3 separate regions of the Homo sapiens genome follow, and all the other regions are reported to be linked to region 3. The links are microRNA targets in miRTarBase. Many come from high-throughput screens and were not tested one by one. Region 3 holds a microRNA gene; each other region holds the end of a gene's coding sequence.

Region 1 (3,208 bases), not on the chromosome of region 3:
CGCTTCTGTGGGCCAGTCCTCACCTCACCAGTCAGCCCCATCTCTACTGGACTGGCTTCTCTTTGAGGGGCTGAGCACAGAGCGGGTGTCCATATTAGAAAGCTACAATTAATTATTATTATTATTATTATTATTATTATTTTTAGAGAGAGACAGGGTTAGCTCTGTTGCCCAGGCTGGAGTACAATGTTGTAATCAGCTCACTGCAGCCTCGACCTGCTGGGCTCAAGTGATCCTCCCATCTCAGCCTCCTGAGTATCTGGGAATACAGGCATGACACTAGCTTTTTTTTTTTTTGAGATGGAGTCTCACTCTGTCACCCAGGCTGGGGTGCAGTGGCGCCATCTCGGCTCACTGCAACCTCCGCCTCCCAGGTTCAAGCAATTCTGCTGCCTCAGCCTCCCGAGTAGCTGGGACCACGGGCGCGCACCATCACGCCCGGCTAATTTTTTGTATTTTTAGCAGAGATGGGGTTTCACTGTGTTAGCCAGGATGGTCTCGATCTCCTGACCTTATGATCTGCCCGCCTTGGCCTCCCAAAGTGCTGGGATTACAAGTGTGACCCACCGTGCCCGGCCAATTTTAAAATTTTTTTGTAGAGACAGGGTATTAGTAGGTTGCCTAGGGTGGTCAAACCTTAAGTGATCCTCCTGCCTTGGCCTCCCAAAGTGCTGGGATTACAGCTGTGAGGCACCATGCTTGGCCAGGATTTGGTTTATTTTAGTATTAGAGACAGGGTCTTGCTGAGTTGCCCAGGCTGGAGTGCAGTGACGCGATCATAGCTCACTTCAGCCTTGAACTCCCGGGATCAAGTGATCCTCCAGCCTCGGCCTCACAAAGTGCTGGGACTACAGGCATGCACCACCACTCCCAAAATTCAGGAATTTTTTTTTTTTTTTGAGACAGAGTCTCACTCTATTGCTCAGACTGGAATTCCATGGTGCAGTCTTGGCTCACTGCAGCCTCCACCTCCTGCCTCAGCCTCTCAAGTATCAGGGACTACAGGCACGTGCCACCATGCCCAGCTAATTTTTGTATTTTTAGTAGAGACAGGGTTTCACCATGTTGGTGAGGCTGGTCTGGAACTCCTGACCTCAGATGATCCGCCCGCCTTGGCCTCCCAAAGTGCTGGGATTACAGGCATGAGCCACTGCGCCCAGCCCAAAATTCAGGATCTTTAGGCTCAGACCATAGCAGGACTCCAGTCTTAGTCCCAGTTAGGTGAAGACTAAGAGGGCACAGAAATGGGATTGGGGTGCAGGGGGCAGGAGTGACCCAGAGTGCATTGAGGGTGGGAGCATGTGGCATGTGGGACCTGCCTCTCTCCATAGGTCCCAGATGGGTTTGGCGGCTGTAGCTTCAAGACTAACAGGACCTGCTGGACCATTTGGGATGCAGATTTTGGAAGGGAAACTGAGACAAATTCTTTATTTTCTTTTCTTTCTTTTTTTTTTTTTTGAGATGGAGTCTCGCTCTGTTGCCCAGGCTGGAGGGCAGTGGCGCAATCTCGGCTCACTGCAAGCTCCTTCTCCCAGGTTCATGCCATTTTCCTGCCTCAGCCTCCCGAGCAGCTGGGACTACAGGCGCCCGCCACCACGCCCGGCTACTTTTTTGTATTTTTAGTAGAGACAAGGTTTCCCCATGTTAGCCAGGATGGTCTCGATCTCCTGACCTTGTGATCTGCCCGCCTCGGCCTCCCAAAGTGCTAGGATTACAGGTGTGAGGCACCGCGCCCACCTCCTCCCTCCCTCCCTCCCTTCCTTCCTTTCTTTTTTTCTGAGACAGGGTCTTGCTCTGTTGCCCAGGCTGGAGTGCAGTGGCATGATCTCGGCTCACGGCAGCCTCTGCCTCCCGGGTTCAAGTGATTCTCCTGCTTCAGCCTTCCCAGTAGCTGGGATTACAGGCAGGCACCACCACACCCGGCTTTTTTTTTTTTCTTTTTTAAATTTTTAGTAGAAACAGGGTTTTGCTGTGTTATCCAGGCTGGTCTTGAACTCCTGGTCTCACGTGATCTGCCCGCCTCAGCCTCCCAAAGTGCTGGGATTACAGGCGTGAGCCACTGCGCCCAGCCCAAACTGGGACAAATTCAAGCTTTATGGTCACATATGAATGCAAGGCATGGCTCTGTGCAGTCTTGGGTCAGTGAACCTCTCTGAACCTCCATTGTTCCACCTGTAAGATGGGGTCCTTCACAGCTCCTACCTCACAGGGCTGTGAAAACATCGTCCTTGTTGGGCACTTAGTAAGTTAACTCGTGCTTTCACCTGGCAAAGGTTTATTGCCTTAGTGATGACAGAATGAGCAAAGTCACGCTTGTTAAGGACCCCCCCCTCCCCAACTGTGCCTGGCACTTTGCCAACAGCACAGGACTCAAGACCCATTTCTTAATCACATGGCAGTTGGGAGGTAGATTCTGCTGTTAGTCCCCTTTGACACACACAGAAATGGAGAATGGGCAGCAGGTGTGATGTTGGAGGAAGACCAGGGCCCAGGGGCGGGGGCTGCAGCAGTGACCTGGTGACCCAGGGCCTGGGCAGGACTGGAGGCCAAAGGACTGGACTTTTAGGCTATTGCAGCCCAGGTAAACGAGGCTCTCATTGGCAGGGCCTGGCTCCCCACCAGGCCGGCAGGCAGATAGGCGGGCGAAAGAGAAGGCAGTATCCCAGGGCCCAGCTCAGATCTTCTCCACGTAGTTTCCTGGGAAAAGGCCCTCCTGGCCGTGAAGCCGGCCCTTCCACCAGCCCGAGGGATCTGTGGGAGAGAGGAAAGCTTGAGGTGCCCCTAGCTGGCCCTGGAGAAAGCTCTCATGCCTGGTCTGTCCATCTTGTTCATGGGGACTCCCTATGTTGTCCAGGCTGGTCTTAAACTCCTAGGCTTAAGCCATCCTCCTGCCTCAGCCTCCCAAAGTGCTGGAATTACAGGTGTGAGCCACTGCATCCGGCCATTTCTACTCTTTAAAAGTTTTTTTTTTGTAAATCTTTTGTAGAGATGGGGTCTTGCTAGGTTGCCCAGGCTTGTCTCAAACTCCTGACCTCAAGTGATCCTCCTGCCTCAGCCACTGAAAGTGCTGGGATTACAGGTATGAGCCACCTCGCCCATCTGTTATCTCTGTTCTCCCGTGGGGAGGGTGTGCAGTGGTGGGGTCTGCCTGGCAATGTCAGTCAGGGTTCTTTTTTTTTTTTTTTTTGAGACGGAGTCTCGCTCTATC
Region 2 (3,273 bases), not on the chromosome of region 3:
CCCCAGCTGCTCTACTCTGTGGCATGAGGGAGGTGAGGGCTGGTGGCTGCTGCCATGCCCTACCTGCCACAGGGATCCTGGCCTTTCCCAAACTAGTGGCGTCAGTGAGCGAGTCTGGGCTGCAGGCTCAGCATGGGGTGAAGATCCACTGTAGGTTGTCTGGGGGGCTCCCTGGGCATTCCCATTGCTGTGCCCACCTTTGGGGTCCCGCTGGGTTAGTCCCAGAGCCTGGCTCTAGGACCAAAGATGTGTGGACCATGACCTCAGCCAATGACTTGGCCCCTGCAGAGGCATCCCCGCTGTCAGCCCAGGATGCTGGTGTGCAGGCGGCCCCAGTGGCGGCCTGCAAGGCTGTGGCCACCAGTCCGTCCCTGGAAGCGCCTGCAGCCCTGCATGTGTTCCCAGAGGTAACTCTGGGGTCCAGCCTGGAGGAGGTGCCGTCCCCTGTGCGGGATGTGCGATGGGATGCTGAGGGCATGACATGGGAGGTGTACGGAGCTGCGGTGGACCTGGAGGTGCTCGGTGTGGCCATCCAGAAGCACCTGGAGATGCAGTTTGAGCAGCTGCAGCGGGCGCCCGCCAGCGAGGACAGCCTGTCTGTGGAGGGCCGGAGGGGGCCACTGCGGGCTGTCATGCAGTCCCTGCGGCGCCCCAGCTGCTGCGGCTGCTCCGGCGCGGCCCCCGAGTGAGGAGCTGTGGCCCTTGGAGCTGGCCTGGGCCCACTGACTTAGTCCTAGACCTGGGCCAGGGACGGTGGGGGCTCCGTGCCCCCTGGACCCACCGGCAGCTGGGCACATCTCTCACCTGAATATTGGCTGCCTCCAGACCACAGGACTGCAGCCTGGGGCTTCCGGCCCTACACAGCTGGGCTGTTTTCTTAAGGGCTTGATTTCCAAGGGCCACATCTCTGCACCTTCCGGGCTCTGAACTTTGAGACAGGGCTTTAGCACTGTGCAGAGGGGAGATCCTGAGTTTTCTGTAAAAAATGACCTTTTGTTCACTCCACCCTCAGAACTCTGCCATGTTGCCTCGTCAGACTCTTGGTGGCTTTATTTGAAATCAGTGCTGAGAAATAGTGAATTCTCGACATGAAATGTGAGGCCCCAGTGACAGGGACTGCCCAGGTCTTTAGGGAAGGGGACTGATGTTATCAGAGGCCTCCTGTGTGCCACATACTGTGCTTGTCCTGTCTTCACCTCTTCATCCTGGCAAGCCTTCATTTGGCAAGGCTGTAGCCGATGTGCCCCACGCTGGACAGCTTGAAGAGGTGGGACTGAGATCCAAAGCCAGGGCCAGCTGAGCCGTGGGTGTTGCCCTGTAGCATGTGCCCGGTCCAGTCAGTGCAGTCATGTATGAGGAGAATTTACTGAGCTCATACTCTGTGCTGGGTTCTGTGGATTCTGTGGTGAATGAGACAGAGGCTGCCCCTGCCCTGGCTGAGCTCATGGTGTGGGTTGGGGATGGCAGGGGAGGATGCTGACCATTACGGAGGGCTGCCAGGCTTCCAGGGTCATTGTGTCAGAGGCTGGCCTGAGGAAGGGGAGAATGGGTGGCCACCTGCCCTAATCTCAGTTACAAAGCCTAAAATTGCACTATTTTCACCTCATTCTGTCGGCTGAAGGATTTCTCCCCAGCTGGTGCAGTTTGTGGAAGGAGGGAGGGCAGGAATGGAGGGGGACAGGGCAGGAGTTTGCCCTGGCCCTGGGGTAGGGGCTGTGAGGCTGTGGGGGCTCGCTTGCCCACATGACCTGACCTAGGCTAGGCAGTGGGGGCCAGGGGCCTTGGAGAGACAGAAACATGGGCTTTGGCACAGTCTGACTTCATTGCCCAAAGATTTCTCGAGGCCTGTGAAGAATGGGAGTGGGCTTGTGTTCTTGTCCTGGGTCTTTGTCTTGAAGATCCTAAGATCCCGTGACACAGCCCCCCAATCCACCCGTGTGAGGGACCAGAGGGCTAGTGTGGGGTCATGGCCCACGACCTGGCCTGTTTCTGGAGCCTCTTCTGCACCTAGGAGCCCAGGACCCCCACAGTGGTGGCTTACTTTTCCCCATCCTCAAGGACCTGGTACTCATTGAGGTGGAAATGACTCATGCAACAGTTGGTGAATTTGTAAAGCAGGAGTGGCATTTCAACAGGCCACAAGGACAAAGTGACAAAGGCGTGCGTCAGGTCAGATGCCTCCTGAAGCCCAACGATGGACCATTCTCACCCGTAAACATGCCTTTCCCATATGCATAGGTGCACCCCTTGGGATTCTGGGGCTGTCAGTCCCTTTGTGTATGGTGCCAGGGCAGGCAGCTCACGTTCTGGGGAGTGACACATGGGTATATGCCATCTTCATGCCTGGCTCCCCATGGAGTCTCCAGGAACCCCAGCCTGTTAGGGCCACATGAGAGAGAACAAATGGCTGTGGGTGCATGGGGAGGGACCTTTCACACAGGGCCATAGCTAAGTAGGGTCTTGAGGATGCAGGGGTTAGACAGGTGGGTGGAGAGAGGGCAGGACCTGCCTGGCAGATGGAACAGCCTGGTCAGATACTTGGATGTGCCTGTCCTGCCTGGGCCATAATGAGTTTCTGCAGTGGCGGCTCATTTGGAGCGTTTGTTGGGTTGGGAGGTGACCAGGGGTCCCCATTGTGAAGATCCTGATGTAAATGAGGAAAGGAACTTTAAGGGAACTGTGGAAGGGGTTCTGAGGTGGGACCAGATTTCAGTTTAGAAATATCCATTTGGCTTCCAGTGGAGATGTGCCAGGTGACACCAAGGAGGGGCCTGTTTAGGGGCAATGGAGTGGGCAGCTGGGGGCTGGGTTCATACACGTGCACACACACGCATACACAGGCACACATGTGTGCAATGGATTTGGGGAGGAGGCATTTCAGGATGCTGAGGTTTCCAGTTTGAGCAAGAGGAGGGTGAGGCCACTACCTGGGTCAAGGTGAATGGCATGTTCAGCAGGTGCAGAAAGGGCCACCTGCCACAGGGTTTGGCTGGGACCAGTGAAACCTACTTCATGAAGAGACTTTCTTCTGTGTCACGTGCAGATTCTTATGCATTCACGCTGGCTGGGTGCCACTCTGTGCTACCTCCATGCTGCCCTGGCTTGCCAGGATGGCAGGCCGGGCTGGGCTCAGCCAAGCTCCCACTCACCTCATCGTCACTGAGATGAGTATTTGCAGAGCGGTGCTGAAATCCAACACCTGTGTCTTGGCTGGGGCCCCAGATGATTCTCCTGGCTAAACCACGATCCTTGTCTCCCTAGCCCAGTTGCACA
Region 3 (3,273 bases):
TCTCTTATTCCTTGATTCGCAATTGTTTCCATGATCTGTTGTGGGCACTGTGTTAACTCCGTGAATACCAAGGCAGGTGTCTGCCCTCCAGGAACCCTGAGGGCTGGAGAGATGCCTTTTAAGCAATGATGGACAGTTGGGGAAGGATGCCCAGGGCACTGTGGGTGAGGCAGGAGATGGGGTCCAACAATTTAGGGGCAGGATCCATGAGGACAGCAGCCTCTGGGGAGACAGCAAAGAGAGGAAGCCTGAGTCTTAGTTTAGTCTGGGTTAGGGCCACAGCCAATGTGAATGAAAGCACATGGTTAGGAGAAAATCACCTAGGACACCTGAAGATGAAAGCGCTGCACTGAGACAGACAAAGAACACCAATGATAACAACTAACCTTTTTTGAGGATTTGGTATAGGCACTGTTTTAAGCACTAAATAAATTAACTAATGTAATCTTCAGTAGAATTCTATTACAGAGATGTAGGTACTATTATATTATTATCAATACTTTGTTTGTTTATTTATTTATTTATTTTGAGAAAGAGTCTCGCTCTGTCACCTGGGCTGGAGTGCAGTGGCTCGATCTCAGCTCACTGCAACCTCCCCCTCTCAGGTTCAAGCGATTCTGCTGCCTCAGCCTCCCCAAGTAGCTGGGACTACAGGCTCACACCACCACACCAGGCTAATTTTTGTATTTTTAGTAGAGATGGGGTTTCGCCCTGTTGGCCAGGCTGATCTTGAACTCCTGACCTCAGAAGATCCACCTGCCTTGGCCTCCCAAAGTGCTGGGATTAGAGGTGTGAGCCACCATGCCTGGCCTGTTGTTACTTTATAGATGTGGAAAATAAGACATCATGGTTAAGTAACTTGCCCAAGGTCACACAGGTAGAGCTATCAATAGCAGACTGGAACCAATAGAGGCCCTCACAGAATGATTCTTGGGAGATTTCAGTTTTCATCTGAACTTTCTCAGGGGGATGTAATAATGTAAATGGACTCTTGGCCCCTCCATCCTGGAAGCTTGGCCAAGTGGCCTAAACCAGGGGTCCCCATTTAGTTTCTCCAGCCCCCTTTTTTCTTGCTGAGTTGTTTTAAAAGTTAAAAAGTGCTTAGTGACCTTGGACAACATTAGCACCTTCTAAGTCCTGGAATCCACCAAGAAGGAGGAAGGGAGATGGTGCTGAATTCCCCTAAGGCAGGGCTCAGGAAGCAAGAGAACCCTGTGGTCTAACCTTTCCCATCTGCTCTCTTGTTCCCAGGCTACGTGCAGGCCTGCCGCGCCCTGATGATTGCTGCCTCGGTCCTGGGTCTGCCGGCCATTTTACTGCTGCTGACTGTTCTTCCCTGCATCCGGATGGGCCAGGAGCCCGGTGTGGCTAAGTACAGGCGGGCCCAGCTGGCTGGTGTTTTGCTCATTCTGCTGGGTAAGACAGCTTTCTCAGTGGTACCCTACCTATGAGGGAGCCTGATGAATCTCAGATCTTGTGGTTGCTGCCTTCTCAAGTTCAAGAGAAATGTGAAAGGAAGCCAAGTGAAGCCAGTGGGGGATGGACTCCCACAATCTGTATCCCTTTGTATTTTATGGGCAGTTTACACAGAGGGCTAAGTAATGTCTCTGGGAGTCACTGACCATGAAGATAAGTTTAAAAAGAGAAAGAGGATTTTGAAGGTAGGAAATACCTAAGGGAAAGACCTGAAAGATGGAAGCCTTCTCAGTCTTCACAGTGGAATCCTTTTTGAACACCTATGCCCAGGTCCCACAGCAGATCAATTGAATCAGAATTTTCTGGGCATCAGGCCAGGCAAAGATATTTTTTGAAAGCTTCCCAGGTGATGCTTATGTGCAGGCAAGACTGAGCAGCTCAGTTAATAAAGAAGGAGGCCGAGGTGGGCGGATCACCTGAGGTTGGAAGTTCAAGACCAGCCTGGCCAACATGGTGAAACCCCATCTCTACTAAAAATACAAAAATTAGCCAGGTATGGTGGTGCATGCCTGTAATCCCAGCTACTCGGGGCGGGGGTTGCTAAGGCAGGAGAATGATTTGAACCCAGGAGGCAGAGGTTGCGGTGAGCTGAGATCACGCTACTGCGTTCCATCCTGGGTGACAGAGTGCAACTCCAAAAAAAAAAAAAAAGAAAAAGAAAAAGAAAAAAGAAAGAAAGAAAAAAGTAAAGAAGAGGGCAAGAGAAAAGTCAGGAGTTGAGGGTGGTTAGACCACCAGGTGATGGCTCCGTCCTTTAACTCAGTAAGCCTTCCTTGAGCATGTGGGCCAGACACCATGGTAGGTACTGGGGACACTGGGGAAAATAGGCCGTCTTTGCTTTGAGTGTACTTGGAAACCTCAATAGAATATGGTATGTGCTCATGTAGAAAAGGTATATAGTCTGTGCATACACATAGGAAGGCACCTAACCCAGACTGGATGAGTTTCCAGAGTGGAAGAACCCAGCAGTAAGCTCTGAGACTTGAAGAGGAGGTGGGCTGGTCATGAATTGAGGGGAGGGACAGTCCAGGGACAGGAAATGGCATGTGCTCATTTGGTTTTGCTGATTATACCTGCACATAAAGGGCTTCATTTAACAACCTATGGAGGGTCCTTCTAGCTCTCTTCTCGTCAGTGATTTAATTTCTCTCCGTTTTTTTCCCTCAGATGCTAGTTTCATTAGCACATTCTAAATCCTAATAGACAATATGAATTTTAAGAACAACTCTTGTTGCAAAGTGCGCATATCAGTGACAACAAATTAGTCTGGTAATGGGTTAGATATAAAATCACCTTCTTCTGAAACAAGGAATTCATACCCCCAGATTGGCATATCAGATGATGAATTTGAGGGGTAAGGATAAGGGGTCAGGGTTCTGTGTGGGTTGATGCCACTTGGTGGGTACCTCCCATCTGGAGGCCTCACACTCATAATGACACCAGTAAGGTGAGGGGACATGAGAGGTGGGGCACCATTTTCCAGGATTGCAAAGGGACGGAGGTTTGCAGGTTCTTGTGAAGCCACAAGGGTGTGTGTGTGTGTGTGTGTGTGTGCGCGCGTGTGTGTGTGTTAACAGGAGTGAAAAGGCCACTAATTTCCAGAGAAAAATCTGAATGTGGAAATTTTGGTTCCAGCCACAAAGAATTTGTGTGCCAGCGTCACACGGAACACATATCAGCATCCGGTGCTTTATCTGACTCACAGGGGCTCCCTCTTGCAGTGCTCTATGGAGGTCAGGTCTATTGTCTGACTCCCTTTCCAACAGGAAAGTGAAAGCTCCACAAGTAAACTTGGTT

Evidence for each region. The annotated mature microRNA hsa-miR-6828-3p reads AUCUGCUCUCUUGUUCCCAG and lies in region 3 at 1,232-1,251, shown strand. An mRNA with a match to its seed (bases 2 to 7 or 8) in the 3' UTR can be bound and repressed. Matches are read on the target gene's strand: a 7mer-m8 pairs with bases 2 to 8, a 7mer-A1 pairs with bases 2 to 7 and ends in A, and an 8mer does both.
Region 1: the mRNA of MYO1F is a reported target of hsa-miR-6828-3p. Seed matches in the 3' UTR shown: 7mer-A1 at 2,412-2,418.
Region 2: miRTarBase lists GPRIN2 as a target of hsa-miR-6828-3p. The part of its 3' UTR that is shown has no 7-base or 8-base seed match.

Annotation. Positions count from the first base shown.
Region 1 is chr19:8,518,854-8,522,061 of GRCh38, forward strand. It overlaps MYO1F (myosin IF), which reads right to left. Exons shown (of 28, transcript NM_012335.4): 28 at 1,925-2,751. The coding sequence ends at 2,675. Among named protein-coding and RNA genes, the nearest start is that of ZNF414, 6.3 kb to the left of the region's middle.
Region 2 is chr10:46,546,776-46,550,048 of GRCh38, reverse strand. It overlaps GPRIN2 (G protein regulated inducer of neurite outgrowth 2), which reads left to right. Exons shown (of 3, transcript NM_001385282.1): 3 at 1-3,273. The coding sequence ends at 689. Among named protein-coding and RNA genes, the nearest start is that of GPRIN2, 8.2 kb to the left of the region's middle.
Region 3 is chr3:170,421,912-170,425,184 of GRCh38, forward strand. MIR6828 (microRNA 6828) reads left to right here and starts at 1,192; the gene lies at 1,192-1,251. It overlaps CLDN11 (claudin 11), which reads left to right. Exons shown (of 3, transcript NM_005602.6): 2 at 1,252-1,416.